Regions from separate parts of the Homo sapiens genome. Here regions 1, 2, 3, 4 and 5 are each reported to be linked to region 6. The links are microRNA targets in miRTarBase. Many come from high-throughput screens and were not tested one by one. Region 6 holds a microRNA gene; each other region holds the end of a gene's coding sequence.
Evidence for each region. Region 6 holds the annotated microRNA hsa-miR-1908-5p (CGGCGGGGACGGCGAUUGGUC, at 3,081-3,101, opposite strand). A microRNA usually pairs through its seed, bases 2 to 8, with sites in the 3' UTR of a target mRNA and lowers its output. Matches are read on the target gene's strand: a 7mer-m8 pairs with bases 2 to 8, a 7mer-A1 pairs with bases 2 to 7 and ends in A, and an 8mer does both.

Region 1: the mRNA of HEXA is a reported target of hsa-miR-1908-5p. Seed matches in the 3' UTR shown: 7mer-A1 at 3,460-3,466.
Region 2: miRTarBase lists LHFPL3 as a target of hsa-miR-1908-5p. The part of its 3' UTR that is shown has no 7-base or 8-base seed match.
Region 3: miRTarBase lists PDRG1 as a target of hsa-miR-1908-5p. Seed matches in the 3' UTR shown: 7mer-A1 at 3,953-3,959.
Region 4: miRTarBase lists GMDS as a target of hsa-miR-1908-5p. Seed matches in the 3' UTR shown: 7mer-m8 at 936-942.
Region 5: the mRNA of PTGR2 is a reported target of hsa-miR-1908-5p. The part of its 3' UTR that is shown has no 7-base or 8-base seed match.

The regions. Positions count from the first base shown.
Region 1 is chr15:72,339,627-72,344,733 of GRCh38, forward strand. HEXA (hexosaminidase subunit alpha) reads right to left here. Exons shown (of 14, transcript NM_000520.6): 14 at 1,298-4,514. The coding sequence ends at 4,451. Among named protein-coding and RNA genes, the nearest start is that of CELF6, 22 kb to the left of the region's middle. RefSeq lists an enhancer at 2,732-3,231.
Region 2 is chr7:104,905,520-104,910,621 of GRCh38, forward strand. It overlaps LHFPL3 (LHFPL tetraspan subfamily member 3), which reads left to right. Exons shown (of 3, transcript NM_199000.3): 3 at 668-3,042. The coding sequence ends at 696. The region is part of intron 3 of LHFPL3-AS2 (LHFPL3 antisense RNA 2); the gene reads right to left. Among named protein-coding and RNA genes, the nearest start is that of LHFPL3-AS2, 19 kb to the right of the region's middle. RefSeq lists a silencer at 4,660-4,816.
Region 3 is chr20:31,941,312-31,946,311 of GRCh38, forward strand. It overlaps PDRG1 (p53 and DNA damage regulated 1), which reads right to left. Exons shown (of 5, transcript NM_030815.3): 5 at 3,026-4,578. The coding sequence ends at 4,496. It overlaps TTLL9 (tubulin tyrosine ligase like 9), which reads left to right. Exons shown (of 15, transcript NM_001008409.5): 15 at 1,634-3,689. The coding sequence ends at 1,710. Among named protein-coding and RNA genes, the nearest start is that of PDRG1, 8.2 kb to the right of the region's middle.
Region 4 is chr6:1,619,844-1,624,950 of GRCh38, reverse strand. It overlaps GMDS (GDP-mannose 4,6-dehydratase), which reads left to right. Exons shown (of 11, transcript NM_001500.4): 10 at 411-479; 11 at 720-1,145. The coding sequence ends at 782. Among named protein-coding and RNA genes, the nearest start is that of FOXC1, 12 kb to the right of the region's middle. RefSeq lists an enhancer at 354-463.
Region 5 is chr14:73,883,231-73,888,230 of GRCh38, forward strand. It overlaps PTGR2 (prostaglandin reductase 2), which reads left to right. Exons shown (of 10, transcript NM_001146154.2): 10 at 871-2,496. The coding sequence ends at 947. It overlaps ZNF410 (zinc finger protein 410), which reads left to right and starts at 3,629. Exons shown (of 12, transcript NM_021188.3): 1 at 3,629-3,685. RefSeq lists enhancers at 1,878-1,987, 3,619-3,688 and a silencer at 3,289-3,568.
Region 6 is chr11:61,812,129-61,817,235 of GRCh38, forward strand. It overlaps MIR1908 (microRNA 1908), which reads right to left and starts at 3,112; the gene lies at 3,033-3,112. It overlaps FADS1 (fatty acid desaturase 1), which reads right to left and starts at 4,875. Exons shown (of 12, transcript NM_013402.7): 1 at 4,427-4,875; 2 at 1,115-1,225; 3 at 343-540. The coding sequence starts at 4,801. It also overlaps a transcript of FADS2 not described here. RefSeq lists silencers at 2,957-3,076, 4,597-4,796 and an enhancer at 3,179-4,076.

The sequences.
Region 1 (5,107 bases), not on the chromosome of region 6:
CAGGGTGTGGTGGCACATGCCTGTAGTCCCAGCTACTTGGGAGGCTGAGGCAGGAGAATTGCTTGAACTCGGGAGGTGGAGGTTGCAGTGAGCCCAGATTGCACCACTGTATTCCAGCCTGGGTGACAAGAGCAAAACTCCATCTCAAAAAGAAAAGAAAAAAAAAAAAAAAACAACAAAAGTGCCTGACACAGCAAGCACATAAAAATGACGAAGCACTTTTGTTCTCCTAGCTGGATCTCCACATCTATCTTCATTCAGATTTCTGACTCATGTGAGTCTAGATAAACACCAGCAGTTGAGTTCCTATGTTCAAATATCCTCTTTCATAATAGATCATCCAGACACTCAGACACACGCTCTCACTCACACACTCTGCAGCACACCAGCGAGCATGGCACCCCTTCCCATCTGTGTCTGCCTGCCAGCTGCTCTTCCTCCTTTCCCACACACACTCCCTTTTTTGAGTGGCTTCCAAAACATCTCTTTCTAATTTGCTATAAAGAGTGAGCCATAAAGAATTTATTAAGTGATGAAAAAAATCACAGCTAAGTATCAGATTCTCCAGAGGAAATAAGATTAAAAAGAAATTCTGGAAAACAGTTGTTTTTGGAGAAGGGAATAGCATTGGGAAGGGGGATATTAATAATGTTTCATCTTTTTTGTTTAAAAAAAACAAATCTGAAGCAAATATGACTACTGAGATGCAACAAAGCTGGGTGGTTACACTGTTTACTATTTTCTAGACTTTTCTGTTGTTTGAAACATTTGAAATCACTAAAAAATAGGAGTATTTACTGGGATAGTTTAGACTAAACATGGGTGTGGTTAGAGTACAGTAATTACTGTGAAAAAAGCAAGGTTCCTGGACATTTAAATTTTTTTCTTTTTTTTGAAACATGGTCTCACCCTGTTGCTGAGGCTGGAGTTCAGTGGTGTGATCATGACTCATTGCAGCCTCAATCTTCCAGGCTGAAGTGATCCTTCTTTCTCAGCCTCCTGAGTAGCTGGGACTACAACCACACACCACCATTCTTAGCTAATCTTTTTAATTTTTAGTAGAAATCAGGTCTCACCATGTTGCCCAGGGTGGTCTTTAACTCCTGAGCTCAGGCAATCCTCCCACATCGGCCTCCCAAAGTGCTGGAATTAGAGGCATGAGCCACTGCACCTGACCCTGACATTTCGATTTTTAAAAATTTTGTTGAAAAACGTCACACACACACACACACACACACACACACACACCTGCTTCAAAGAGGATTTTTAAAAACAATGGTGGCTCGGCTAGAAAAGATACTAATTTTCAACCTTTATTTCAAAGTTTATTTATAAAGGAAATACAAATTTTGATAAACAAAGCACCCAATTCCTACTTATTTTTTTTCTTCGTGGAAAAAAAAGTATGTGACACATACTTGTCATGCCCTGTATTGATTAAGCTTACAAAAGATATTGACAGAAACTATACAAATCTAGAATTTAGAGTGCTAGGAATGTTGCCATAAGGTATGTGTACCTACATTAATACTAAATAAATTCCACCTACATCCTTTCTTTCACCCTTTCCCAGTATCATTTCAGCTTTCCTCACAGTCTCACTGTCCCAGAAGTCTAGGGGCAATGACTCTCCATCACTAGTGCTGTGGTGGCACCTGTGCTCCCACATCCTGATATCCTACCCCTACGGCAATCCTTTGAGAAGCACCTGAAAACACCAGTGACCTAGCTTTATTAGATTCCTCGAAGGGAAGGTACCTGGCATGCAGCCTCAGCTCCTACCAAGGAGAGGAGAGGTTGAAGACTCTCCCAGTCTCCATTCACTCCTTTGCTTTGATACCCGTTAGGCCTGCTTTGCCTCCTTAATAGACTCCTGGAATGGGAAGGGGTGGGGGTGGGGAGCGACTGGAGAACTCTTTTCCTAGGATGACTGGAGCCAGGAAGTCAGTCTGGAAACTTCCCCACCCCCTGGTGGTGCACAGCACACAAGATGGCCTGTGTTCCGCTCAGGGGTGGGACTTTCAATTTACAGCCTAGGTGAAGGGAGATGAGTTGGGGCAACAGCGATTCTGTTCATTGGAACAGACTGGGTGGTAACTGCAGGCCACTGCAGTTGACCTGTTGGCATTCGAGGTCTGACGACCTTCAGGTAAATGCTCTTATGATCAGTGGACCAAAGGAGCAACGGTGGAGGGTGAGGAACAGCACACTTTACCAATGAAAGTCGTGACCAGGCCACGTTAGTTTAGTGGTAAAAATAATAACATTAAAGAAAATGTTTACAACAGGAATAGAAAATGACAGAACCCTACTGCTTTAACTCAAGTGTATCACGATCTCTGCCTTCATCCACTTGAGACTTAAAACTCAGTGTCTGCTATTTTTACTTAACATTATCCCAAGCAATAGTAACATGAAAGTTATGACCAGGAGGGAAGCAGGGTCGCACCTGTGCAGGGTCCTTGTCTGCGGACCACCCCTCCTACAAGCTTCTGGGTAATAGAGGTAAGGGGGCTCCTGTGGTGGGTGCCAGTGCTGGGACCTTAACTTGTGTATCTGGGCTATAGCCCTGGACTTGGCTAGGCTGGGCTGTGTGAAAATTCCAAGAATTCTGTTGGTAGAAAATGCCCACCCTGTCCTTACAGGAACAGCACAAGGCTAGGCTTGTCTACCTCCCACCAGGACCTCGAAGGAACATGACCCAGGGGCTGAAGGATGGTGTTGAAGGACCGAGTTTTACTCAGATCCTTCTCAGCCCTGCCTTCCTGAAGTTTCTGTATCCACTACACTGGAAGCTTTCTGAAAAAAATGCCTGGAACCTGTCCATTGTTACCCCAGCCCAGGGCCCAGCCAAAGAACTTAACAAATAACCGCCAAGGAAATCCTCACCTAAAATGGCTGCGATGCATTACTGCCCCCGCCTCTGGCTTACAGTATCACTTCTGCATCTGAAACCAGGAGGGGGCAGTCTGGGTCCACGACGAGACATTTCCTTCTAGAGAAAATCACACCTGCAAAGACCCTCTCCAGAGCCACCGCCCACCTCCGCGCAGCCATCCATTCCCTGCGAAGATGCTTTGGGCTGAAAATGGTTGGGAGGAGGGGGATGGAAGTCGCCTACGTTATTTTGGAATTGACCAGGGCCTCTGAGTCCTTCAAATTCAACAATTTACCACAGGCCCGCGTGCGGTGGCTCACGCCTCTAATCCCAGCACTTTGGGAGGCCAAGACAAGTGAACATCTGAGGTCATGAGTTCAAGACCAGCCTGGCCAATATAGTGAAACCCCATCTCTACTAAAAATAGATGAATTCGGCCGGGCGCGGTGGCTCACGCCTGTAATCCCAGCACTTTGGGAGGCCAAGGCGGGCGGATCACGAGGTCAGGAGATCGAGACCATCCTGGCTAACACGGAGAAACCCCATCTCTACTAAAAATACAAAAAATTAGCCGGGCGTGGTGGCGGGCGCCTGTAGTCCCAGCTACTGGGGAGGCTGAGGCAGGAGAATGGCGTGAACCCAGGAGGTGGAGCTTGCAGTGAGTCGAGATCGTGCCACTGCACTCCAGCCTGTGTGACAGTGAGACTCCGTCTCAGAAAAAAAAAATATATATATATGAATTAGATGGACATGGTGGCACGTGCCTATTAATTCCAGTTACTCAGGAGGCTGATGCACGAGAATCGCTTGAACCCAGGAGGCAGAGGCTGCAGTGAGCCAAGATTGTGCCACTGCACTGTCAGCCTGGGCGACAGAGTTTTTGAGACAGTCTCAAAAACAAAAACAACAAAAAAACCCACTACCACAGTGCCTAGAGAACAATATGTGTTTAATAATATTTAAATAATGGTTGTATAAAATTGAAGCAGCAAGAAACCCAAAGGAGAATAGCTCTAGGGGAGGGAGGTGGATGAGTATGCATGGGGGAGAGGCTCTTCTGTGACCAGGTTGGGTCTGGAGCCCTCCCCACTGTCCAGAACACCTCCAAGCCCCTACATCTTTTTCCATATACCAACGCCTTGGAGATATAATGCAGAAGTGAAGTGAGCAGGCTGAGGATTAGGGCAGGTGTCTGGAATATGGTCAGGAGTGGGAGGGGAGTGACATAGCTCACAGGCAAGGCAGAACAGCACAAAGGCTATAGGTTTCATTCCCAGCCCTCAACTTAAAAGACCTCAGGGGCAGACACTGACTCCAGCCTGGCTGTGCCCTTACCCTAACGCCATTCACACTTTTTTTTTTAAACACAGGTAATCCATGTTTATTATAGAAAAATGCCACATTACTCTTTATTGAATGCGAGCGCCAGCACCGGCCCCTTTCTCTCCAAGCACAGGGGCACGCAGGCAAGGGGCACGAAGGCAAGGGGCTCCGTCCCCTGGCCAGGATGCAGTGGAAGCCTGGCTCCACTACCATTCACCTACAGCCAGCACCCTCCTCGGTGCCTGGGGCTCAGGTCTGTTCAAACTCCTGCTCACAGAAGCCTACATTGAGGGGTTGGGCCTGGACACCTCGCCTGCAAGAGGACATGAAGAAATGGCAAGATAAGCCCCTCAGAAGGGGCCCCAGCAACACTTTTCACACCAGTCAACAGTCTCTCCTTCCCCATTTCGGTGACTCTCAAACTGTCACTGTACACCAAATGCACCTGGGAATCTCAATTCCAGAGATTCTCACCTGGGGTGGGGCAAAGTATTGGCAAGAATCTGCAAGCTGAACAGGTGCCTCAGGTGATTCTGATACAGGTCTTGGAGATCCAGAAACGTTGGCGACATCTATTTATATCCTGCCCATCTCTGTACCCTAACCCCAAATAACTCAATCCCTTTAGAATATAGATGGATGTCTGAAAGGCAGCCAATGCTCTTGGTCTACTTAGCCCTCTGTTCCTGACTCTAAAATGCTGTAAATATGGTGGCACTGGGGGACTTAGGTGCTGTCCTGTCCATGAACATGGATGCGAAATCCTGTCCTTGGGTCTCAGTCTATAACCTGACCAATCTCCTTAGGGGACCTCTAGGCATGCTTCCCTTATCATCCAAGTAAGCAACATGCTTAGAGAACCAGCTGGAAGTTACCCAGTGAATGACATAATTGAGGCTTAGACAC
Region 2 (5,102 bases), not on the chromosome of region 6:
GAGATCAGCCTGGGCAACATGGTGAAACCCTGTCTCTATATTATAAATTAAGTAAATAAATAAATAAAAGAAACTTATGCTGATATGGACAATGGAAATTTAGAAAATTGTCTTTAATGTAATGTTTAAATGTTTAAAGTATCATCTATACTGTAATTACAATTGTATAAAATAATTTCCCATTTAGATAAGGAATGGAAAGAAATATAGGAAGAAAACAGTTGTGTCCAAGTGATTAAATTGTGGGTCATTAATCTTTATAATAATTTCTTTTGTAGCTGCTATAATGTTGAGTTCAAATAAATAAAACTTGGAAAGAAAAGGAAAACACTCAAGTGACACATTTTTCCATGCTAAGCAGAAAAGTCAGTGATACTTGGGAACAGTCCACATTTTTCCTTGCTCCTTCAAAGCAGCCTCTAATCTTGACCCAGATGGAGGGAATACTCATGTTCTTCTTGCTGGGAAGACTGTACTGTGGGTTGAATGGAACAGAAATCTCAAACTTTCCAGTATTGTTTGGTAACAAATGCAAAATGCATTTGAACCATTCATTGGTATAGTTTTTCCGTGACAAATATTATGCACAAAAATCTTGCAGACAGAAAATGATGTATTTTTTCTCTCCCCCCACCCTTTTTCTCTCTCTTCCCTCCAATTTCTGCAGTTCTGCTAAGCCAATATTCTCTAGAATGAGCACAAAACAAATCGAATAACAGCTAAACAAATCGAATAACAGCTAAACGAATCGAATAACAGCTTTTGTACATCAACATCAAGAAGGAATACGCCTGAGAGAGATCAGAGTATATAGATGAATATGAACAAGAATGGAACATTCACTTGTCAACGCACTTTCTAAATCTAGATCAGCAGAGATGGGAGTGATTTTCTGGAAAGAGATGTGATCATGGATTAAACACCAGCTCATTGGAAACTCATTGGATGAGATCAGAAAACGTTCATGAAAAATCATATTCAGGAAATAAGGAAGAGGAATATAAATGCTCTAGAGTTAACATGTAAAATATATACGTACTGAGGTTTGTAAACTGTCCTTTTTAAATCAAACTGAAAACAAAAAGCTTTAACCTTTCAACAGAATTTTTAAAAAGGCAGTTAGTTCTAAATTATTCCTATCTCAATAGCCAAGAGGCTGATCAAGCGTCATTTATTGAGGAAGCATCTTAGAAAATGCCTCTGAATGTTTTCATAGGAGCCGTGACCTTTGGTTCTTCATCTCTACCATTCATTTACTTCACTGTGTAATTAGTTACAACCACTCAGTTATTAAGAGACGTAACGCTTCAAACTTTTTACCAAGTCTGTGTTCTGTTTAATCTGTCCATACAAGTTATTACTGAGAAAGTGTTTATGCCATATACTATTACTCCATCAAGCTGTATATTACAGGAAGTACATCTTTACATCATAGGTTCCCAAGCAACATAGATTTCCCTATCTTTCAGGAAACAGCATCAAGGAACTCTGAAAAATATAGAAAAAGTTCATTTTCACCTTGGAAGCTCACGTGTAATATTATAGGCTACTATCAAATAAACACTTTTTTTCTAATTCTCCCTAGTATATGCATAGGAATTTAATATACTTTATAAATAAGTATCTAAAATGTCTCCTACTTTTTTCCTATTTCTTTGCCATACATGTTATCAGAAATCCATGTCTTCTATTTCCCTTACTGATGGGCACTCATTTTTATTTTTTTAAAAATCATTCCATTAAACATATTTCTAAATAATAGTAAGTGGTACTAACAAAATAAATAATAATTTAATAGCCTTAGAAATAAATGACTGTATACTTATACAGGTTGAAAAAAACTCGGTAGGAATAAGTTACCTTTTTGTTTACTAATGTTGGTTTCAAAAATACTCAGATTCATTTTAGTTGGCTGACATCTGGAAGTAGTTAACAACTAACCAGTGGACTTCAACAATCATTTGCTCCCAGGCTTCCCCCATCATCACCCTCACCACATATCCTGCTAATATCCAACAACAAACAAATATTTAATATTGAAATAGCCCATTGCCTGAGAATGAACACAAGCTAAAATACATGCAAGGGTACTTAATGGAAGCCAAACCATGTTCTATACCTAAGGAGAAAACATGGACATGTAGAATGCTTTTATTCATGTATTCAAAATCAGAACAAATCAGTGTATATCACTAGAACATCAGATGGAGGATAACACAAGAAGTGATACAGATCAGGGTTCACTTCTCTTACCCTCTCTCTGTTAGGACCACATTCCTATTTTAGCCAAATGTTTCTGGTACGGGCCATCTTTTCACCATAAATGGCATTATGTTTCAAATGGCTAAAAGCATATTATGGGTATGCTCAAAGGAGTAAAACCCAATTCACAGAGATGTGGCTTTTCTAAAGAACCAAATTAAGGGAATACTTAGTATCTACAACTAAAGTATTAGTCATTCTGAGGATTATTTGTTGCTTTAAGTATTAGCTCCCTACTACATCCATAACACCCTACTTACTAAATTTAATTACACACAACTTTTCAAGAATTCGTATTTTATTTGAAGGGAGGTACCTGTCTACTTTATCTACAATAAAAACAAAGGGTATTGGCTTTCTCTAATCCATGCAAACTACAAATTCCATCGGGAGTCCTACATCACTAACAGTGGTATGAACAAAACTAAGAAAGTACTTCCTATCCACATGTGAATGTTTTAAAAAAGTTTTTGCCATAAAACCTAAGTGTAATTTAGCATACCACAGTGCTCTGAAGATGGGTCATTGACGATGTACCATTTGTATATAGGTAATACACATGTAAATCACTAATTGTTAATTAAATATAAGAAGTAGGTTTTTATCTTTTTAAAAAAAAAACAAAAAAGGTGACTCCCTTTCTCATTCTGTTCTGTTGTATTGCGTCCAAAAGTTGTGTGTAATTTTTTTAAGGTCCAAGAAATGTAAAGAAATTTGTTGGAATACCTGAATTTCTGTAAAAAAATAAAAATAAAAATAAGATTTTGTTACTTAAAAGAATTTTTGGTGGTGTGGTACATATTTGGTGCATTCAGTTTCTGTCTTTGTCCAGTGATCTGGTGACAGCTGATGGTTCCACTGAAGTAACTATCTCGGAAAATCTCCCTGCTGTTGGATTCCATATCTGTCAACAGCAGGACTCTCATGTAGAAGGCATGGTTAACATCTCCAAAGCCTCTTCTGGCCAAATGTAGGAATATCTCCAGCTAATTCTCCATACACTCAGTGGAATGAAATTGATAACTAAATAAATAGCTGGACTACTCAAGTAAAACTTGACCTGCAATATCCAATTGCCCAATCTCCCCTTTGCAAATTGAAAACAACCAACCATTCCTCGCACATGAGCAACCCTTCATACTGGGTATATGAAGCAACAACACTTCATACTGGGTATATGTTGTCTGAGTGGGTTCCAATCCCTGATCCTTGGTTTACTATATGACTCTGAACAACTCTAAGCCTCAGTGTCCTCACTGGTAAAATAGATATAAATAATATTACTCAGCTCCATAGCATTGTTGTAAGGATATAAATTAAACTATACTGTTGTTGTGTTTGACAGGTAGGGGATATTCAGTGAATGTTCATTCCTTCCCCTCCTACTATATGCAAGACACTGAAGGAAGAAAAGAAACATAAAAAAAAGTCTCTGCTCTGAAGATCCTGAAGACAATTAGAGTGACATTTATAAGCAGGGATTGAAAATTCAAATGCGTACAAGGGCCAATAAATTCACAAAGCAAGCTCAGCTGGGGACATAATAGGGCGTAGTAGGAACTGGCCTGGCACAGTGGCCTCTAATCCCAGTACTTTGGGAGGCTGAGGCAGATGGATCACTTGAGTCCAGGAGTATGTGACCAGCCTAGGCAATATAGTGAGATCCCTTCTCTGAAAATAAAAAAAAAAAACAACAATAATTTTTTAAATAAAATAAAATAAATTTTTAAAAGGAAGTAGTGGGAACTGTGGAGCACTGAAGAGCCTAGGTCCCGTCTAAAGGGAATAAGTAGTCAACGCTCAGCTCTAATGATTCAAGAAATATGTATTGAGTTCCTACTATGTGCCAAGAACTGTTCTAAACTCTGAGAATATAGTGGTGAATCACACAAAACCCTGCTTTCCTTTCATAGGTCTTATGTTCTAGTAGGGGAAGACAGACAATAGACTGGAAAATGTCAGCTAATAATAGATGCCCTAAAGAGAATTAAAACAGGGTGATTGACAGAGAAATGGAGAGAGGAGTCAGGTAAGGCCTCCATGAAAAGGTGGCATTTAGAGTGAGACCTGAACAAACGTTTAAAAGCCACGTGTGAAAAAAGCAGAAGGCATGCCAGACCAGGAACGGCAAGGTGGCAGAGTGGGGAGCCACGTGGGCTAAGCTAGGACCCAGCTCTGGGCTTTGTAGGCCAGGATAGTTTGTACATTTTAAGTGTGAGAAAAAGCCACTGGAGGATCTTAAGCAGAAGAGTGATATAAACTATTTCACATTTCTAAAAGATTACTTTTGGTTTCGGCATCTAGCAGTATAAACTAGATACTCTAAAAAGCCTTTCTTTTTTTTTTTTTTTTTTTTTTTTTTTTAAGACGGAGTCTGGCTCTGTCACCCAGGTTGGAGTGCAGTGGGGCGATCTTGGCTAACTGCAACCTCCGCACCACCATGCCCAGCTAATTTTTGTATTTTTAGTAGAGACGGGGTTTCACCATGTTGGCCAGGCTAGTCTTGAACTCCTGACCTCATTATCCACCCACCTTGGCCTCCCATAGTGCTGGGATTACAGGCGTGAGCCATTGAGCCCAGCCTCTAAAAAGCCTTTCTTATGCCATACTATTAAATCTTAGATAAATTACAATAAGTTTATTTTTAACACACAGCTTAGATTATAAGAAAATAAGGGAAATTCCAAAAACATTTCAAAAAAGAAGTGGAGTGAGCTGAAAACTAAGTGTGAAATGTAAGCAAAGGCAAAAACTGGGCTTGCCTGAAGGTAAATCTGTATAACAAAGTAGGGAATGGAAGATTAAGCGTTGGGCCACTGGAAGCAGGTGAGTTAAATTTG
Region 3 (5,000 bases), not on the chromosome of region 6:
AACATTGTTGCAGCCTTCTTTGCCAACAGTGCACCAAAGATATCAATGCGCTACTTCCTGGACCCCCATTTGAGTAGCAAAGATGGAAAGCGGCGGTTCTCTATCTTGGCTGCCCATTGGAATCACCTGGGAGCTTTAAAGACTACTGACGCCTGCCAGATCAAGATATGGTTGGTGTGGGCATCAGTAGCTTTTAAAGCTCCCAGGTGATTCCAATATGCAGCCCAAGTTGAGAGCTACTGTTTTTTTTTTATTATTTTTTTTTGAGACGGAGTCTCGCTCTGTTGCCCAGGCTGGAGTGCAGTGGTGCAATCATAGCTCACTGTAACTAACCTCAAACTCCCAGGCTCAAGCAGTCCTCCTACCTCAGCCTCCTGAGTAGCTAGGCCTACAGGCACACACCACACCTGGCTAATTTTATTTTTGTGTGTGTGATTTTTTTCCTGTAGAGACAAAATCTCACTATATTGACCAGGCTGGGAGAGCCAGTGCTTTAGAAGTCTCTAGAATTATTCCTGTTTCAAGTGTTTGGGTTTATGGTGGTAAACACAAGGGTAGCTGGTTAGGGTAGGAAGAGTACTGATGAACTGAGTTAGGGAAGCGTTCAGGGACATCCAGGTGAAAGGGTCAGCAGATAACTCAGAGATGAGTGTAGAACTCCAAGAAGTTTGCACTGGACAAGAAGACTCGAGAGTTAGGAATGAGCCAAATAGAGTTTAAGTTAGGGCTGCATGGAACTCACTCTGGAAAACCCTGAGGATGTGCATCGTAGGCTCTCAGCTCAGTGAATGGCTGAGTGAGTGTCTGGGAAGCAGGGACAGGGTTTGGGGGGATGTGGAAGATGGCAGACACCCACAGGTCAGAACTAGTGGCCACAGAGATTCAGTCATTCAAGCAGCATTTTTGAGTGCCAGCAATGTGCCTGGCATGAGGTTAAATGACCATAGTTACCTCAAGGATCAGCTCTGAGAGCAAACAGCCAACATGTAGCACCATGAACGTCCTGGGAGAGACGTCTCAGCAGCTCACGGCAGCCTCAGCACGAACTGCCTGGGATTGGGGGCCACATGTACGGAAAACTCATCTCTTAGCCAGTTGTGCCTGGCACATGGGTTGGGTAAGGGAAGAAAGCTAACAGTACTGGGCAGCTATGAGGTGCCAGGCACTGTGCTAGCTTTAAATGCATTTTCACTGAGCAAAGCCAGGAGAAGCAGCAGCGTGGGGTAGTGGTTAAGAGTGTGGCTCTGGCACCAGGTAGTCTGGGTTCAAATGATTTAACCTCTCTGAGCCTGTTTTCCCTTCTACACATCATTCCTGCGAGGGCCAAACAAATCCATCCACATTCAGCATCTGGAGCAGTTCCTGGCTTGAGGTAAGCCCCCAGTCCTCATGTTCACTCCATAAGGTGGGCAGTAGTATCCTGGTTTACAGATGAGAAGACCGATGCTGAAAAGGGTAACTGACCTGCTTGAGGGCCATGGCAGTTTAGGAATGGAGCCAGGATATAAACCACAGGCTGTGTGTGGTTGTCTGACTCCCGCTGTCCCCTCTTCCCAGCAGGGAGTTGGGGCACAGGCCCCTCCACTCCTCCCAAGCATAGGTCATCCCAGCCAACACCCCACTTCCTTTCCAGGCTGCGTCAACGATCGGAAGAAACAACTGAGGCAGCTCTTCTGCTCCCTTCAAGTTCAGAAGAAAGCTTCCAGTTGATCCCCAGCTGCCAGGAGGAAATCAGCCTTAGCAGGTGCCACCCAGGCCTCCCCCCCACTCCCAGATCCCAGCACAGCACCTCACAGCATTCGCCTCCCCACCTCCAGCCTGGCACCAGCTTTGCTGGCTTAGCAGCTGCAGCTTACTACCTGAATTGGGCCCCTTGGATACCTCCAGCCCATCCCCAGGCATCTTTGCACCAGGAGACAGCCAATCACTGGGACTGGGGGAGGTTTAACCTTGACAAACTGACTTGGCAGTTAGGCCCAAAGAGAACAAATACAGCAAGTTCTGCTACCCCCAGGAGATCATATCTAATAAATGAGCACAGGCCCTACTTGGAGTCACTGGGCACCAGGCCTGGTTCCGGGGATACTGTTGGCTGCAGCCAAGTCCTCCTGGCTTTGACACTTGGATACCTCCCAAGTCAGTGCTGAAAAGGTCCTTCAGGAGCAAGAGTTTGGAGGCTAAGGAACTCGTCTTTAAGCTGTGCTTACACAGCAAGCAGTTATTAGATTGTGTGTTTATTGGGGGCCTGGGGAAGTACTGAGCCCTAAACACATCCTCTTCTCCTTGCATGTCAGGGGAGCCCATGGGGCTCCCTGACCATCATCTGAAAACCAGTGGGACAGGGCATCCCCATTTCTCAGATGGACAAGACAGACCAGGGAGGCAGAGCTTAGTGAGGGTCTCTGCAAAGGTGCATTTATCTAAGTCAGATGGGTGACTTAAGTGCTTCTCTAGGCCTTGTGTTTGAGATTGGGAGCTGAGCCAGAAACCGGAAAACCCTGGGCTCATGGGCAGGACAGCTTCGGGAGTTGAGTGTGAGTAAAAATCTGCCTTTTCACATCTTACATTGCTAAGCTTCCTCTTGGTTTAAGAGGGGTTGCAACAAGACTCGGGGCTGTTGGGGTAACTGTTCCAGGGGGGACTTACTCCCTCTACCACTCCGCCTGCTTCAGAGTAGTTTCTCTGGCTGCAAATGGTTGAATCTGCCTGCCTAGGTCAAGCCCGAAGGGAAGACTTTTGGAAGGAAAATACTGGCAAATCCAAGAAGTGAACCAGCCGACTTTAGGAAAGCCAGAAGCCAGGCTACTCTAGACCTTCTGCCTTCAGAGCATGAGGACTTCTCCCACTCATCCCTGTACCTGAGGCACACCAACCCAGACAGGTCCAGGCATGGACTCCAGGTTCCCTATTTCCAGAAGGAATGCGATTAGCTTTTTTTGGCCCAGCACCCACCCTGCCAGGGAGGAAGGGGCAATTTTCCAGTGATGAAATTGTGAATCAGGCAGTCACACTGGACAACATCTAGCAAGGTGAATTCTGCAACTCCCTACTTTATTTACATTTTAAAATAAGCAATATATTCATACGGTTTAAAATCCAAAGTTTACAAAAGGGTATAGGGTGACATCTCCTTCCCTCCCACCTGTGCGCCCCAACCCTGCAGGTGCTGTTCTGAGGGAATCACACTGTGCTTGCACAAAAATTATTAGCTTATAAGACACCAGCCTTCCCCTTGCTTTCCTCACTTGATGTATCTTGGAGCTTGTTCCTTATTCTTGATTATAGTTGTATGGTATTGCACTATCTGGAGCTAACACCTGTGACCCACACTCATGTTTTAAAAGTTTCTGCATTAGTCAAAAATATTTAAAAGGAGATTCAACTTCACAACCCATATGTCTAGCTTCTCTTGAAAACACGTAAGAACTGGCCATGACAGCCTGTGTTTCTATGTAACTATGAGCCAGAGCCAAGGAGCGGGGGGACCAGGAGAGGTGTGCCCCTGCCATGCTGCCATTTGTTATCACCCGCCTGTCAAATCACAGGTTTATTTCAAGGCAAGAACCATGTTCATAGGTTGTATTCTAAATGGAGTGGCGTGCCCTTACTGAAGGACTAGATGAGGCAAATAAAGACTAGTTGCTGCTATTCATTCATTCAGCTAACATTTATTGAGCCCTTAATGAACACATAAGAGTTTTGACTTCACGGCAGTTCATACTGGGACCTCAGACCACTGAAGGCAGACAGTAACGAGCAGTGCTGGCCGGGCCCCACTTTCAGAGGGGGCGGAAGGGCATCTTGACACGTGTCATATGGTAAGAGGCGCATCCACTCACCCAGGCCTGGTGCAGGACTCTGCAAGGCCCTCCTGAGTAAAGAGTGGCCACGAAGGGCTGCTAGGCAGCACCTACTCTTGGAATCAAGCAGGGAAAAAGTGCAAAATTGGAGCTGGCGGGAGGTGTGTGTGCCTGCCCCACAGATGGCTGTGGTGAGCCACAAAGCACCAAGATTCTGTTCTTCATTCAGCAACCACCCATGAGCCTCCTGCTTTATTCCAATCGCATGGCACCAGCCTGAAAACCTCTCTCCCTTCTGAGAGGAATGCTGGAATGACACTCCACTCTGCCCCTCCCTCCCTCCTTCCTTGCTCAGGGTCCATGTGAACAGCAGGCCATTGTTGGGAAGTGCCTGTTGCAGTCATTCTTACACCCCCACAGCCACTGCCCCACACACCCACTGGTGGCTACCAAGGCCCGTCAATAGATCTTGTGTCCACCGAGCCCTGGTGTCCAGGTCCAGCAGCCAGACAGGCTGAAGGTTCCCTCCTGCCATCACAGAGTAGCCAAGCACTACAAAGAGGTTTTCATGGCCAGATTCCTGACGGCTGGCCCCTTACAGGGCAGATCCTGTCCTTACAGGTGTCAAGGTTGGAGGGTCCTGGGTCCTCCATGACCCTGGGGGGTTGCTGGTCCCCCATCTTGGTTCTTGAGTCTCATCCTTTCAAGATGACCTTGAGAGCTTTAAGCTCATCCTGGTTGAGGGGGTTCAAGTTAAAACCCTTCAGCTCCGGTTTGCCTAGGAGAGAAGATGATCCATCAGCACGTCGGGCCTCCTGCTGGCTCTGGAGCCAGGCCCAGGAAAGGGGCTGACGCTGCACTAATGCTGCCAAACTCAGCCTGGAGGTCTGGCAGGGATGGGCCTCCAATTCTGCAATGCACCAGATGAGGCATCACCACTGCTCCTGTGTCACCAAGAGCCTGCAAACGCGTAACTCTGCTGCCCAAAGAACCTCAGGTTTTTCCAAGACCTGTGACCAATCTAGAGTGCTTGCATTTATCAAGAATTTCAGCTCTGACCTCACTCACTCACTGAAGCCTTCTGAGTTTCCTCAGTCAGAGCTATCTGATCCCCATGCCATGCCCCGATGTATAACGTGAGATCACCCCAAGCGGTTCCTGGGACCTGGAAAAGAAACTATGACAGGACTAGGACTGTAG
Region 4 (5,107 bases), not on the chromosome of region 6:
GGGGCGCCTGGTGATTTACTCACTTCCCTCCTAGCCAGAGAAGTGCAGCAATTCCAAACAGTTCTCATAGGAGCGTCCCTGACAACTTCATGTTATAAAAAAAAAAAAAAAAAAAAAAAAAAAGCATTAAGAGCCCAAGGGACGCCTTGGGGAGAAGAGGTGTGGAGGTAGCTGGGGGTGGATCGCGGTCACGGTCCTCACGGGTCCGCACAGCACATTCTTAACCGCGACCTAGTGATTTACGGCGCCGAGAGCCGCAACTGAACGCGCACAGCAGGGACCGAAAGCAGGGAAACCCGGAGCCTTGTGCGCCCAGAGGGAGCGGAACGGTGGGAGTTCCCGGGGCTCGGGACCTGCTGCCCCCACCCCCACGACCCACGCCTGCTTCGTCTCCCCCTCTTCTTCCCTAGGACTTTCTGCAGGGCGACTGCACCAAAGCGAAACAGAAGCTGAACTGGAAGCCCCGGGTCGCTTTCGATGTGAGTATCTCTTAGGGCGCACGCCGCCCGCTGCGGGGCCCCGGGCTGCAGGGCGGCAGCTCTCAGGGTCGGGCGCCTGAGGCGCCTGCGATGCCCAAAGCCCGGAAGGCGGGGTGCGGGAGAAGTGAGGGGAGCTGGAACGAGGGACGCGGAGGCCTCTCTGGGGCCGACACCCGGGGTGGGGTGTCACCAGGAGAGAGTGGCAGAAGCTCCTCCCTCACGCCCACCCCTGTGTTGCAGGAGCTGGTGAGGGAGATGGTGCACGCCGACGTGGAGCTCATGAGGACAAACCCCAATGCCTGAGCAGCGCCTCGGAGCCCGGCCCGCCCTCCGGCTACAATCCCCGCAGAGTCTCCGGTGCAGACGCGCTGCGGGGATGGGGAGCGGCGTGCCAATCTGCGGGTCCCCTGCGGCCCCTGCTGCCGCTGCGCTGTCCCGGCCGCAAGAGCGGGGCCGCCCCGCCGAGGTTTGTAGCAGCCGGGATGTGACCCTCCAGGGTTTGGGTCGCTTTGCGTTTGTCGAAGCCTCCTCTGAATGGCTTTGTGAAATCAAGATGTTTTAATCACATTCACTTTACTTGAAATTATGTTGTTACACAACAAATTGTGGGGCCTTCAAATTGTTTTTCTCTTTTCATATTAAAAATGGTCTTTCTGTGAACTAGCATTCACAGGGTCAGTGTGGATGTTTTCTCCCAAGTTATGAACACGGCTATAGGGGTCCCCAAACAACCCCACAATCCAGGCCTTGGAATGAGATCGCTGTGGTCAGGCCTTGCCCTGTTTTGAGAAAGCCCTTGGTGGGAGGACTCCTGCAAGGCTAAGGGGGGCGGGGGTGCTCCGGCGAGCCTCCTCCTTAGTCTTTGCCTGGGACATTTCTTTCCCCCTCCTGGTGACAAGTCACTCTGGAAACCTAGTTCCTGCAGAAGGGAGGAATTCACACCCTGGCTGGTCTCTGCTGACTATAATTAGAACCCAAGGGCTCTCACCCATCTGAAAAAGAAGTCTTGAGAAATAGAGGGGGGTCAGAAGAAGAAACTTGAAGGTAAGCAAATACTGTTGGAACATTCCATGGCAAAGCCACCAAGTTACCTAGAGGTCTCTGAGCCTGTGCCTTTCCTTGTGGTCTAGAATCTTTTACACAGTGCTTATTTGCAGCCTCTTCTTATGACTACTAGGTCACTTTTTAAATCTCAGTTTAATGTATTCATTCAGCCATTTATGTTAAGTGCCTAATACATGCCAGACATTGTGCTATGCACTTGAACGACATCAGCGTTAATTTGAAGCTATAATAAAAAGGTTTAAGGCTCAGCCTCAGATCTCTGGATCTGGTTTGTTTGCATGCATCATTTAGGTGGCCTGGGTAAGACCACAGGTGTGTGCTCCTGAGCTGTGTATGGTGTACAGCTACAGGTAGGCTGACGCACACATGTGCAGGACACCCACAGGCAGCAAGCAAGGATTCATGTACAGGTGTATACCTCCACATGAAATACAGTATTTTGCCCTAGAACAAATTAGGTCAGGACACTTCTCCCCCTCACTCCCCTTCCAAGCAAAATAAAATAAAACTTTATAGCAAATGGAATTCCAGCCTTTGCACATGTGTGTGTGAGTGCGGGTAAACTATTTCTGAACGTCTTCACAGGCAGGTTTATGATCTGGGGGAGGACCGAGTCTCCAACGACTGGCGCAGGAGAGAGGGCTCTTTGTGTGGCTGCCCAGTTGCTGTGAAAGCTTGCTGGCCGGGCGGCCTCGCCCTCGATGGAGCAGAACTGGGGGGCCTGAGCTAGCCCACCCGCTCCTCAGAAGCTGTCCCAGGACTCGCCTTCTCTGCACTCCCAGGCGGGATGCTGCTAATTGGAAACACATGGTTGCTGGGAGGCCGGGCCTCAGCCTGGGCGGGATAGTGGGCACACACACAGATACATACTCACACATTGGCTCGAACACAAACATCCATGCACATCCATTCACAAGTGCACATACACTCCACAAACATGCCATCTCACAGTCACACATTCTCACAAACACTTGCAAACCCAACTCCCAAACCCACTGTCACACACATCCTCCAACAAATCTCACAAAGAGTCACATTCCTCTTAGCCTTGACCCTGATGGGCAGGCACCCCCTCTCCTCTGACCACCGGAACCTCCCTTCCCACACCCAGGAGAGACTATTCCAGGGGCCCTCAGGCTTGCCATGGCCCTGTTTAATTCAGTGTTGCTTGTTTGGACACCTAGAATCAGGAGAGATTCTAGGCAGGGGTTTATGCAGCTCCAGTTGAGCCATGATGTTGAATTCTACTTCTCCAAACGGATGGCAGCATCCATGTTTGAAGGAAACTAAAAAGTATTTTTGGTTGCAACCTTCTCACTGCTCCTGCACCCTGAGTAATGGAAGGAGCGGGAGTTCATTTGGCTTCCTGGTGTATGTGGTTTAAAAGGAGAAAAGGAGAATCGATTTACTTCGGCATTTTTTATCTATTTCTGTGCTATGAGAGAAATTCATTTGGACATCCTTCAAGACAATTCTTATTACAGGGTTTCTTCTATCTTAAATCTCAATTAAATTTCAGTAAACTTATTTTTTCCTGCTCTGCCAGACTTTGGCTGTTGGTTTCAAATGTTACAAAACATCTTCCACCTTGATATTTTTAAGGAAAAACTGAGAAAGTTAAACCTTCAGTTAAACTCACATACCATGGCAAAGCAATCTTGCCCGAGTTTGTGCAGGAGGTGCGTGGAACCCGGGTAGGCCAGGCCCCGTCGCGGGCTCTCTCTGCTGCCCTTTGTCTTTAAGGAATTGCGAGCGAGCTAGGCCCAGCATAATAAACCTGTCACACCTCTGCAGCTGTTTAGGGGCTCAGGCTCAGCCGCTGCTGCTGCTGCGCGCAAGATGGCTCCTTCGGAAGGCCGGGTCCGCTTGGCCGCGGGCGCTGGCGAGGAGCGGGTCGGCGCTGGCAAACCCCACAGGCATGGCTTTGGGTTCTTTTTCGCCCCTTTTAGTAGCCTTCGCCTACACCAACCACCGCGAACCTCGTGGAACCTCTGGCAGCCAGTTGGAGGGCTCCTGGCAGATGCAAGGAGTGTTATTATCGCACTAATGTGTTATTAGAGCTTGGAGCAGGCAGCACTTTAAACATTCACTTGAAAATAACCTTAAATGTATTGTTTACAAGTAACTTTTTAACACCCCTCCCCCCAAGTCTCAAAGCACCCTACGCACTTTATTTGGATTTGGGAGTGCCTACTGGGTGAATTCTGTTTTAAGGTGCAGCCCACACACGTCCAGGTGTTTTCTACAACCTGCATCCTTGATTGGTACGCGGGTGGCATGGAGGGGTGGTGGCAGCGCCCATCTAGGTTTTACAAAATGAGTGTCCCTGTGTGTGCGTGGACGTGCCTCACAAAGAGACCTTCACGTCCGTACATGCCACCCGCACCCTCCAAAAATTGTGGATTGCCATCACGGGGGTCGCTAATACTTTTAACAAGCAGCAGGGGCAATGGGGGACAAAACGGCGCTAGGAACTGGTCCACCGTCCACAGTGTGTCCCCTGAGAACACCCGGGGTCTGGGCCTGATCTCCAGGAGTTGGAGGAGGCGCCCCCGCCCCGTGCCAAGCGGGCCCAAGGCCCGAGGCTCCCCCGCTCACAACCCCGGTGCCCGGAACACGTCTTCGAGGGGCCGTGCTGTCGGGGTTATTACTCGCGACTGGACCTCGCGCCGTGTTGCTCTCCTCGGGCCCCGAGCCCGCCCAGCGGTCTGCACGGCCCAGGCCTGAGCTGCGGGCTTCTCCTGTGGGGCGCGCTGGGAGTGAGCTCTATCCCCAAAGCCCATTTCAACGTCCCAGGTATGACTACGACGGCAGAGGCCGGCCGCCCACCCTCGCCCCCTTCCCCGGCCAGAGCGCCTTTGCCGGGAGCCGACGACCGCGGCCTGACCCCGGGCCCCACCGCCTACTCCCGGCTCCCGCCCTTCCTCCACGGTCAGGGGTCACACACAGCGGACGCCCCGTTCTCAGCCGCCCCTCTGATCTCTGAATTTGGGAGCCAGCGTGTCCGCTGGGGCATGCACTGCCACGGGCACTGGGACCCCTTTGCTGCTGCGGGGAGGAGCCCCGACGGCAGGTGGGAAGACCTAGCCTGCCCGCGTCCCCGCTCCCCAGCTCCTGCGACCCGGGCCGAGGCTCTCAGCCCCTGGGCTTCCCCGCTCCGGGTTTGAGGGAGGGGCCGGGCCTTCGGGCCTGCAGACCCGCCACCGCGCGTGCGCATGCGTCGGCCGCGAGCCCCCGGGTGCAGGCCTGGGCGGCTCCGGCCCGCGCACTTGTCCAGGCGCTGCGGCTCAGCGCGCCCCAACCTCCAGCTCGGGCGGAGAGCGGGGGCGGGACTGAAGCACCGTGTTCCTCAAAGTATCCTCTCGCCGTCGGCAGCCCTGGCCTCGCAAATGCTCCAGCGCGCTCAGGCGCACGCAGAGACTGGCGCGGCAGCCTCCGGGCCAACGGCACGCGAGCAAAGCTGGTTGGCGACCTGGGACACGCAGTAGAAGTTGAGGCTGCACCGACTCCCGCCGCTTCGGGGGAGGCATGGGCCCGGGCAGGCCTAGGAGGAAGCTGCACAG
Region 5 (5,000 bases), not on the chromosome of region 6:
TCTTGCTCTGTTGCCCAGGCTGGAGTGCAGTGGCATGATCATAGCTAACTGTAACTTATGAACCCATGGGCTCAAGCAATCCTCTCACCAGAGTAGCTGGTACTACAATTACCTGCCACTATGCCCAACCTTTTTTTTTTTTTTAATTTTCCATAGAAACAGGGTCTCACTATATTGTCCAGGCAACTCCTGGCCTCAAATGATCCTTCTGCCTCAGCCTCCCAAAGTGCTGGAATTTACAGGTGTGAGTGCCTAGCCCTTTTTTTAATTTTTGAGACAGGGCCATGCTCTGTCACCCGGGCTGGAGTGCAGTGGTGCGATCATGGCTCACTGCAGCCTCTACCTCCCAGGTTCAGGTGATGCTCCCACCTTAGCCCCCCGAGTAGCTGGGACTACAGGCACACACCACCACTCCCAGCTGATTTTTGTATTTTTAGTAGAGATGGGGTTTCACCATGTTGGTCAGGCTGGTCTTAAACTCCTGACTTCAAGTGATCCACCCACCTTGGCCTCCCAAAGTGCTGGGATTACAGTCGTGAGGCCCCATGCCCGGCCTTCACTCACATTTTATTCCCATTTTTTTTTGCCTCTAGTCTTCAGATACTGTAAACAATGAACATTGATGTGCATACCAGTTAGATACCAATTAAATCTTTCCAGTATGGGCAAAACATTTTTTTAAGATGTTAATTGGGTTAGTTTGTGTGTAACTTTTTACTTGAGATTTCTTTTCATGACCATTTTCTTCTATGCTTAATATTCAAAATCATTGAAAAAGTTATTTAACATAATTTTATATGTTGTACCTTTTGGAAACAAGTATGATAGTGACATTTATCTTTTCAGATAACCTACTTTCTCTTTTTCCAGCTGCATTCCAGTCCATGATGACAGGAGGTAACATTGGAAAGCAGATAGTTTGCATTTCAGAAGAAATCTCTTTGTAATTGCTGTAAATGTCATCAAGGCAATCATAGATTTCTTTTCCATTTTGCATATTTTCAAAGATATGTTAAAAAATCCTTAGACTATACATAGCTCTTGATTTAAATGTGATCATAGGTGTTATTTTTAGTTGCATAGGGTATTTGATACAATCATTAATGGATCATACACAATAGGTTTTTAAAAATTAATAACTTTTAGTAATTACTTTTATTAATTTAAAATAGAACGCTTGAGAGGCACTTTGTAAAGATTTGTTAAACTGGAAACGTTTTACATGATCTGATACAACCATTAATGAATCATACACAATAGGTTTTTTAAAATTAATATTAATAACTTTTATTAATTTAAAATAGAATGCTTAAAATAAAATAGAATGCTTGAGAGGCACTGAGTAAAGATTTGTTGAACTGGAAATGTTTTACATGATTCTTAAACTGAAACTTGGTGTAAAAATAGAATTGAGATGGCCTTTTTTTCACATTGTAGACTGAAAAGAGACTTAATGGTATGATGTGTACATAGGGACTGGGGGCAGGATTGGGGGTTTCGGAGCTTGTGTAACAGTTTTTGGGATAGGAGACCAGCGGTTTTGGGTTGGGATTAGTATGGGAAGATAAATAACTTAGGTTGGTTAAGTTGACAAGATTTACTCCAGAGGATCATCTCTTTGTATTTGCCAAATAATTTACTGTATAGCCTAAAAACTCCATATATATTGAGAAAAGCATATGTTTATTTTAGGTTAGCAGGCACATACTGTCAAGTTGTAAAGATTGAGAGGGCAAACAGATGTAAACATCACTTGTAGGTGATTAAAAAGATTGACAGCCGGGCCTGATGTCTCAAGCCTGTAATCCTAGCACTTTGGGAGGCAGAGGCGGGCAGATCACTTGAGGTCAGGAGTTCAAGACCAGCCTGGCCAACACGGTGAAACCCCATCTCTCTAAAAATACAAAAATTAGCTGGGCGTGGTGGCACACGCCTGTAATCCCAGCTACTCAGGAGGCTGAGGCTGGAGAATCATTTGAACCTGGGAGGGGGAGGTTGCCGTGAGCTGAGCTTGCACCATTGCACTCCAGCCTGGGCGACAAGAGTGAAATTCCATCTCAAAAAACAAAAACAGATTGACAACAAAGACAGTTTCAGAAAATGACAGGACTGGGCAAATTAACAAATGTTTGTAAACATGAATGTTCAGGAACTACTGATGTACCTCAAAAGTTTGTTTTATTAATTGTACTCAACCCTCGCAGAACAGTAAAACTGAAGATTATTGTTTCTGAATGTTTTGGCTTATGATTGTCTACACACTGCCAATATACTTTTGTATGCAACATTTGTAATAAGTAGATTCAAACTGTGTTGGTAATCAGCCTCCCCAGTTTTCGTGAGTGGCCCTTTTTTGTTACTTTTCCTGGACCATTTCATCGCCTGAGGGGGTTTCACTTTTCTCTGTATGTTGCTAACTCCCAAATCTCCATCTGTATTTCTGACCTCTTTCTTGAGCACTGGACCTTTACCTCCAAGTAAATATCCTCAACTCTGGATTGCATCTTATACTCTGCTTTTTTCTTTTCTTTTCTTTTTTGAGATGGAGTCTTGCTCAGTCGCCCGGCGTGCAGCGGCACGATCTCGGCTCACTGCAACCTCCGCCTCCCGGGTTCAAGCGATTCTCCTGCCTCAGCCTCCCGAGTAGCTAGGATTACAGGCGCGTGCCACCACGCCCGGCTAATTTTTGTGTTTTTAGTAGAGACGGGTTTTCACGGCGTTACCCAGGATGGTCTCGATCTCCTGACCTCGTGATCCGCCCACCTTAGCCTCCCAAAGTGCTGGGATTAAAGGCGTGAGCCACGGAGTCCGGCCTACTCTGCTTTTCTAAAGTGGAATTATCTTCCTCTGAAATGTTTCTCCTTTATTTTAAATCACCATTAGTAATTTGTGTACCCAAACCTGTCATCAAGGCTTATCTTTAACCTTGAAAATGCCTTTTTAAAGAGAACTCCTTTAATTCCCACGGTTGAGTCTCTCATTCTTCCGCACGCAAATATTTTAAAATAAGTAATTTCAAGAAGTCAGTCAAACTCACAAAGCTTTAACAAGGTGGCATCCAGCTTGGAAGTCAAGTGTTCAAGCCCGCAGTCGGGACATCCAAGAGCTCTTTACATCCTAATTACAACACGGAACCCAGACTCACTGCATACCCCGTCCCGTATATAATGCAAAACTTGATTCTGCAAGTTCCTTTCTCGGGCGGTGAAACTTCGAAGGTCCTCTCCATGGAGACCTTTGATAAATGTTTAAGCAGTGATCTTTTCTTTCGCGTTTGCCTCCATTGCAACGCCTCCGCTGATGGGAAAAACTACTCCCTCCGCTACTGCGGGGTGGCAGTGACGTCAACGAATTAGCTGACCTGTTTTTTCGGGCTTCGCGGACATAGGAGTCCCGAAGGCCGAGAGTGAGTGAGTGAGTGGGAGCGGGGCGGCTGCGGCTCCTCCTGTCCGGGGCGGAGCCCTGCGTCGCGGGCCTGGGGAGGCCCCGCCAGCACCCTTGACGTCTGGGTCCCGAGCAGTGCGGCAGCCACACGACACTGAGGCGAGCGAGTGGGTGTGTGCGTGGGGGGTCAGCCAAACTTCCTGTCCCGCGCTCGAGCTGCTTCCGGCGGGAGCCGGAAGACGCTGTGTGTGGACGGAATTCGGGACCGACTGACGGCCGGCCGGCTTCCCGGAACTGGAAGGTGAGCTCCGAGGTGGGCCTGGCCACCCCTCCTCGGTTAGGTAGTACCCGAGAGGGCGGGGGCCAGTACCGGCTACTTGGGGCCTGGGGCCGAGTTCGCCCCGAGAGAGGAAACCGCCCTCCTTGGGCATCCCTCCTGGATCTGGCGGGCCCGGGAGCGGCCAGTCTGAAGCCCTGCGGCTTTGGCCCTTCCCCTCGCGGGTTTTTAGGGGCGATGTTCTTGCTCCTTTGCTTGGTTTTGGGGGTAGGGATATAGGAACAGACTGTCCTGAGAAAGCCAGAGTCAGCGAGTCCCCGGGGCGGGGGCTCTTGGACTGCACCCGCAGCCGGGGCCTGCCTACGGACCTTGGGGCCTTATTTCTGAGGCCTTTGTGGTGTGGGGTAGAGGATGCCAGGAGGCCTTGCCCTGAATGTTTCAGTCCAGAGCTACCCTCTCCTTTCATACCACTTACTTTCTGGGTTTGGAAAAGGGACAGCTGCCTACTCGGCTGGGCTGGGTCGCCCGTTTCTCCTTTGCCTGTCAGTTCGGGGGGCAGGAGTGTGTGGATTGTTTACGGCCTTCATACATTTCGTGTCGAATTTATTTTCTGAAGTTTCTCAAGATAATCCAATTTATTAAAGTTTATCCCACTTGATCATGAGGCTCAGAAATGCATTTAGGCACCATTTGGAAGTTAAATATTATTAACTTGGGACTTAAGAATTAGTACTTAGGTTGGAACGAAGGTCAACGCAGCATATTTGCAATAAATAAAAAACATTTGGAAATAAAGTCGGGCATTTTGTTAGGGAGTGAGAAATTGCACTTGGTTTTTTCTTAGTGTGGTGCAGAGTAAAAGACAACTAAAGTAGCAGTCAGAAGTTTTAAGTTCTAGTTTTTTACGTTTTGCATCTAAGTAGATGTCTAATTTTTGGCAAGTTGCTGAATCTCTAGCTCTGGGGAGTTTTTCTGTAAACGAAGGGGTTTACCTTTAGGGCTATGACAATTTTTCCGAGGCACTGAACTTTGAGTAGAAGTGACATAAGCATTTCTTTGTTTTGGAAAGATAACTTGAATGGCTGCATAAAGGATGTATTGGAAAGAGGAATTTTAAACGCGGGGTGACCAGTTAGAGGCCTGTTTTAATAGTATAGTAGAAAGTTACTGAGAGACCTAAACAGGGCATTACAGTAGGGAACAGAGAACATTCTGGGAACAGAGAATCACGGGAATTATTTAAAAATGGAGAATGAGAGAGATTTAAAGACCTAGAATTTGCAGCTGAGTGGGAGGAAGATTGGGCGATCATTGAAATAGGTAATACAAGAAGAACAGG
Region 6 (5,107 bases):
CATATTGGGCAATGTCAGTGGTGGGGAGGGAGCCAAGCTTTGCTAAGAAACCAGAAACTTGGCTCCTGGCACAGGTGGGCTGTGGCAGAGAACAAACCGCATAGGAAGAAGAGAACCCTTGGAGAAGCAGCTAAAAAGGCAGTGAGAGAAATGAAGATGTCCATGTGGCTAAAGAGCAGACAGGTCAAGACAGCAGAATGCATGTTCCTGCACTCACTCCTGCATACCTTCAGATCTGCCCTGCTTGGAGGGCAGGCACTCTTGGCCTTCCTCAAACACCCAAGGAGCTTTCCCCAGGGATGCTGAGCATTGCTGTGCACTTGACAAGCCAAAGGCTCTCACCTGAACTGCACTGAGCAGCACCGCACAGAGGAGGAAGGGCAAAAAGGACGTCCCAAAGACCCAAAGGGTGAGCCAGGCTGCACCATCCAGCAGCAAGATGTGCAGCAGGTACAGCAGGAAGAAGACATGGTTGGCCTTCATGAGCCCCATCCGCTCCACTGTGGCCCGCAGCTCCCGGAACTCATCTGTCAGCTCTTTCTGCAGAAGAGGAAGAGGAGCTGTTATTCTTCTCATCTGCACCCCAATGCTACTGGAGACAAGGGCCCTCTCAGGCTCAAGGACCTCCCACTGAGGTAGCTGTGGGAAGTCCACAGTCCTAGGCAAAGATACCACGACAATGAGGATGACAGGAGGAGGTGCCATGGGATAGTGCCTAAGAGTTCAGGGGACTAAGTCCTTGCTCTGCCATTTACTAACTGTGTGATCCTTGGCTGTGTTGCTTAACCTCCCTGAGCCTGTTATCTCATCTGTAAATGTGTAAGAGTTATGAGTTTATGCTTGGTGCATAGTAAGTGCTCATATGATAACAATGATGATAACAATGATGGCAGCCATGGTAGTGGCAGCCTTGGGGGAGCCATAGGTTGCAAAGCCATGCTCCCTTGGGCCTGTGACCTCATGACTATGCAAGAGAAGCAGGGACCTCAAGACTCCCCAGAGCTACTACTGACTGTGATTACTATGACTGTGATCCCATCTAGACTCTCCTTCCACCCCCTCTCTGTCCCCCTCAACAACCAATAGTTGCGACATAGCAAACACAGGGTCTTACATTCTTGGTGGGCTCAAAGCTGGGCTGCTCTGGAGACAGTTCTCCAATCAGGAGAGAGTTCATATACTTCTTCACAAGGCCCTTGTTGATGTGGAAGGCCACAAAGGGATCCTGCAAGTGCCGGGAGAAGATGAAAGGTGAGGGAGCCAGCCCCCTGGACTCCGGCAGTGTTCGCACCAAAGGCCATCCTCCTGCCCGCCAGAAGGCTGTACCCAAGTTGAAGTGAGAGGTGAAGCCAGATGGACTTCCTGGGTCGAGTGCAGACTTGGAGAACTTTTCTGTAGCTAGAGGTTTGTAAAATGCACCAATCCGTGCTCTTTAGCTAGCTAGAGGTAAAATGGACCAATCAGCACCCTGTAAAATGGACCAATCAGTGCTCTATAAAATGGACAAATCAGCAGGACATGGGCAGGGACAAATAAGGGAATAAAAGCTGCTCCCGGCCGGGCGCGGTGGCTCACGCCTGTAATCCCAGCACTTTGGGAGGCCAAGGCGGGTGGATCACGAGGTCAGGAGATCGAGACCATCCTGGCTAACACAGTGAAACCCCGTCTCTACTAAAAATACAAAAAATTAGCCGGGCGAGGTAGCGGGCGCCTGTAGTCCCAGCTACTCGGGAGGCTGAGGCAGGAGAATGGCGTGAACCCCGGGGGAGGGCGGAGCCTGCAGTGAGCCGAGATCGCGCCACTGCACTCCAGCCTGGGCGACAGGGAGACTCCGTCTCAAAAAAAAAAAAAAAAAAAAAGGCTGCTCCCCCTCACACCCCCCAACGTCCAGCAGCGGCAACCTGCTCGGGTACCCTTCCACGCTGTGGAAGCTTTGTTCTTTGCTCTTCACAATAAATCTTGCTGCTGCTCACTCTTTGGGTCCACGCCACCTGTAAGAGCTGTAACACTCACCGCGAAGGTTCATGGCTTCATTCTTGACGTCAGCGAGACCACGAGCCCACCTGAAGGAACCAACTCCTGACACAGAAGCACAGGCCATCTCCCTAGGCCCAGCTGCCTTTTGAGGGTGCTCCCAGGTGTCCACAGTTTAAGATCACCGAGTATCTGCTCTAGTTAGAAGGATGCATCAAGGAATGGGAAGCATTGGCTGAGGGGAACCACTAAGAAACACCTGCCTGGGCTGGCCTTTCCCCTGGGTGTGTCCACAGACAGCTTTTGCCCAAGAATTTCAGTATAGGTGAGAAACAGGAGAGATGGGTGGGGCTGTGTCGGGCGTTGGTTCCTTCCGGCGGGTATGGTCTCACTGACTTCAAGAATGGAGCCGTGGACCTTCCCGCTGTTATAGCTCTTAAAGGAATAACACTCTTTGCAGACCCAAAGAATGAGCAGCAGCAAGGTTTAGTGTGACGAGCAAAAGAACAATGCTTCCACAGCCTGTAAGGGAACTGGAGCGGGTTGCAGCAGCTGGCTGGGGTGGCCAGCTTTTATTGTCTTAGTTGTCCCTGCCCACGTCCTGCTGATTGGCTCATTTTACAAACCTCTAGCTAGCTACAGAGCGCCAATTGGTGCGTTTTTACAGAGCACTGATTGGTGCATTTTACAAACCTCTAGATACAGAAAAGTTCTCTAGGTCCCCATTCGACCCATCAACTCCAGCTGGCTTCACCTCTCAGGGCTATGAGACTTCCGTCCCTTCTTGCGGGTCTTTCAATAAGTCCCTTTCCTCTCTTAGCTAGGGTTCTCCAAAAACCACGAAGAGGAAGACTTCCCTACGTCCGAACTGGGGCACTTCTGCGTTTCTTCCCTTTCCCTCCACCGTTGTTCTGGGTAGGGCTCCACATTTCCCTAAGCACTCTGGCCACCCCCTGCCCCAAGGCAGCTACTTTGGGTTGTGCAAGGTAAGGTCCATGGCGATAAGATTCACGTTGGCAGGTCCGGCAGCCCCGGGCCCTGTAAGTGATGCGGCGTGTGGGGCGGGGGCCGGGGCGGAGCCGGCGGCCGGTGGCACCACACATACGGACCAATCGCCGTCCCCGCCGCGGCATTCCCGGCCCCAAATCACACTGCGGGAAGCTCCAGCGTTGGTGCCTGTTTCGTCTGCGCATGCGCCGGGACACGCCTGCGCCCTTGGCCGCAGTCAGGGCTCCCGAGTGGTCACTCTGGTTGACCCGCGCAAGCTCTGGCCTCGCCCACTAGGCTGGTCGCGTCAGAGGGTGGGGCGGGTCTTCGCCCCGCAGCGTCTAAGCTCTGCTGCGACGTTATGGGAACCTGGTGACCCGCGGCACACTCTGGGACGCCAGGGTAGTGGATAGGGACAGTGGAGGGCATCACGCTGCAGGGCACGGGATCAGAGGGGGATGCAAGGGGAGGGGACGCCATTCTGGCCGCCAAGGGGGAAACGCGGTGAAGGGAACGCCCCGACTTTCGAGTCCCTAGGACTGAGTCCCCAGGACTCCAACCCAGCAGAGAGGCGCCGGGGCCTTAGCTCTGAGGGCTGTGGTCTAGAAAGGGAAGCAGCAGGCCTGGGGCTGGGGCGCGCGCCGACCCCGCAGTGAGACCAAGGGAAGAAGGGACAGGACCCCGCGAAGGGCCTACCGCCCCAGAGCGTAAACAGCGGTCCGCTCCGCGGAATAGCTGAAGACCTCGCTGGCCTGCGGCTCAGTGGCCTCCCCGGCGATTCGAGAACAGCTCTGGGGGTCCTCGCTAAGTGTATGCCATTCCCAATCCCTTATGTACGCCAGCGGCCGCTTGCCCTCCCCGGCCAGCGCTGTCCCTTCCGCGTCCTCCAGTCTTCACACGACGCAGGGGTCCCCAAGGCAGCGGTCTCCCCAAGCTTCCCGTTTCAGCCCCATCCTCGAGAATGGGCTCCTTTCCTGCTCCCTCTCCGCTCCTGCTGGCGAGTGGAGACCGGCACCTAGGTCCAGACGCGGCTGCGCTGCCTCTCCTAGCCATCGAGACAGGATGTGACTCCCTCCCCTGGCCACTGACCCCCTCCCTCCCCAGGCGGCCTGCATCCTTGCTCTCCTCCCTCCTAGCCTACCCAGCTCGGGGTTCTGTCCCCGCCCAGAGACCTGAGGCTCGGGGCTGCAGATGGAATGCACGGCAGGGAGGCGGGACCCTTTGTTTGTGTGTGCGTGTTGTTGGCCTCCATCCCCACTCCCCAGACTCCACTTCTCCAGGCCTCTCTCCCGCCTTTTCATCCCGCATCCGCAGGACACCCAATCACCGGGCAACAGGTATGATCAGGCGCCTCCGGGCTTTCCTCCGAATTAGTCGGTGTTTGGCTCGGAGTGCGTAACTCTGTCTCCCCTGCACTCAGCCTCCGGTCCCGCCCTCTCCTGTGCCCCCGCCTGGCTGCGCTCACCGTGGCATCCTGCCCGGCGTAGTGGCTGATGACCCGGGAGCCCCCTGGATGCCGGCGGGTGAACTCGCTGATGTTGTACACCTTACGGTCGATCACTAGCCACCGCTCCTCGCACCCTGAGCGCTGGGCCACCTCGTCCCAGGTGAAGTAGCGCGGGGTAGGTCCCTGAGCCGCGGTCTCGGCGGCCACCGGGTCGGGGGCCATAGCTGGCCTGGCGACGCCGCGCGCCGGGCCAGCAGGGGCTGTCAGGCGCGTGCTCGGGGTCCGCGGGCTCCAGGAGTGGATTTGCTGGCGCGCGCCCAGAGCCAGCCGCCTGCGCGCCGGGTTTTCAGCACCGCAGGGCAGACCGGCGGGCCTCGCAGCGCGCGTTCCCATTGGCCGAGCCTCGTGGCGCGGGGAGCGAGATCCCGTCCCCCGGTGGGTCTTGGGCAACTCACAGCTGGGCTGCCAACACGCGCCCCCTCGCGGGCTCCCTAAAGGCGTCGCCGCCGGATTCGACTTCCTGACGTCAGGCGGGCATCGCGGCGTTGGCTCCCAGGGGGCGCCGCGGTAGGAACAGCGGTTCTAGTGCAGGCCCTGGGTGCGGGGCCGCGCTGCAGGAGTGAATGGACTGAGGGGCCAGGGCTGCGGGGTGGCCGCAGGAAGGGTGGGCGGGGCCGGGGTTGAGGTTTTTCCGTGCAC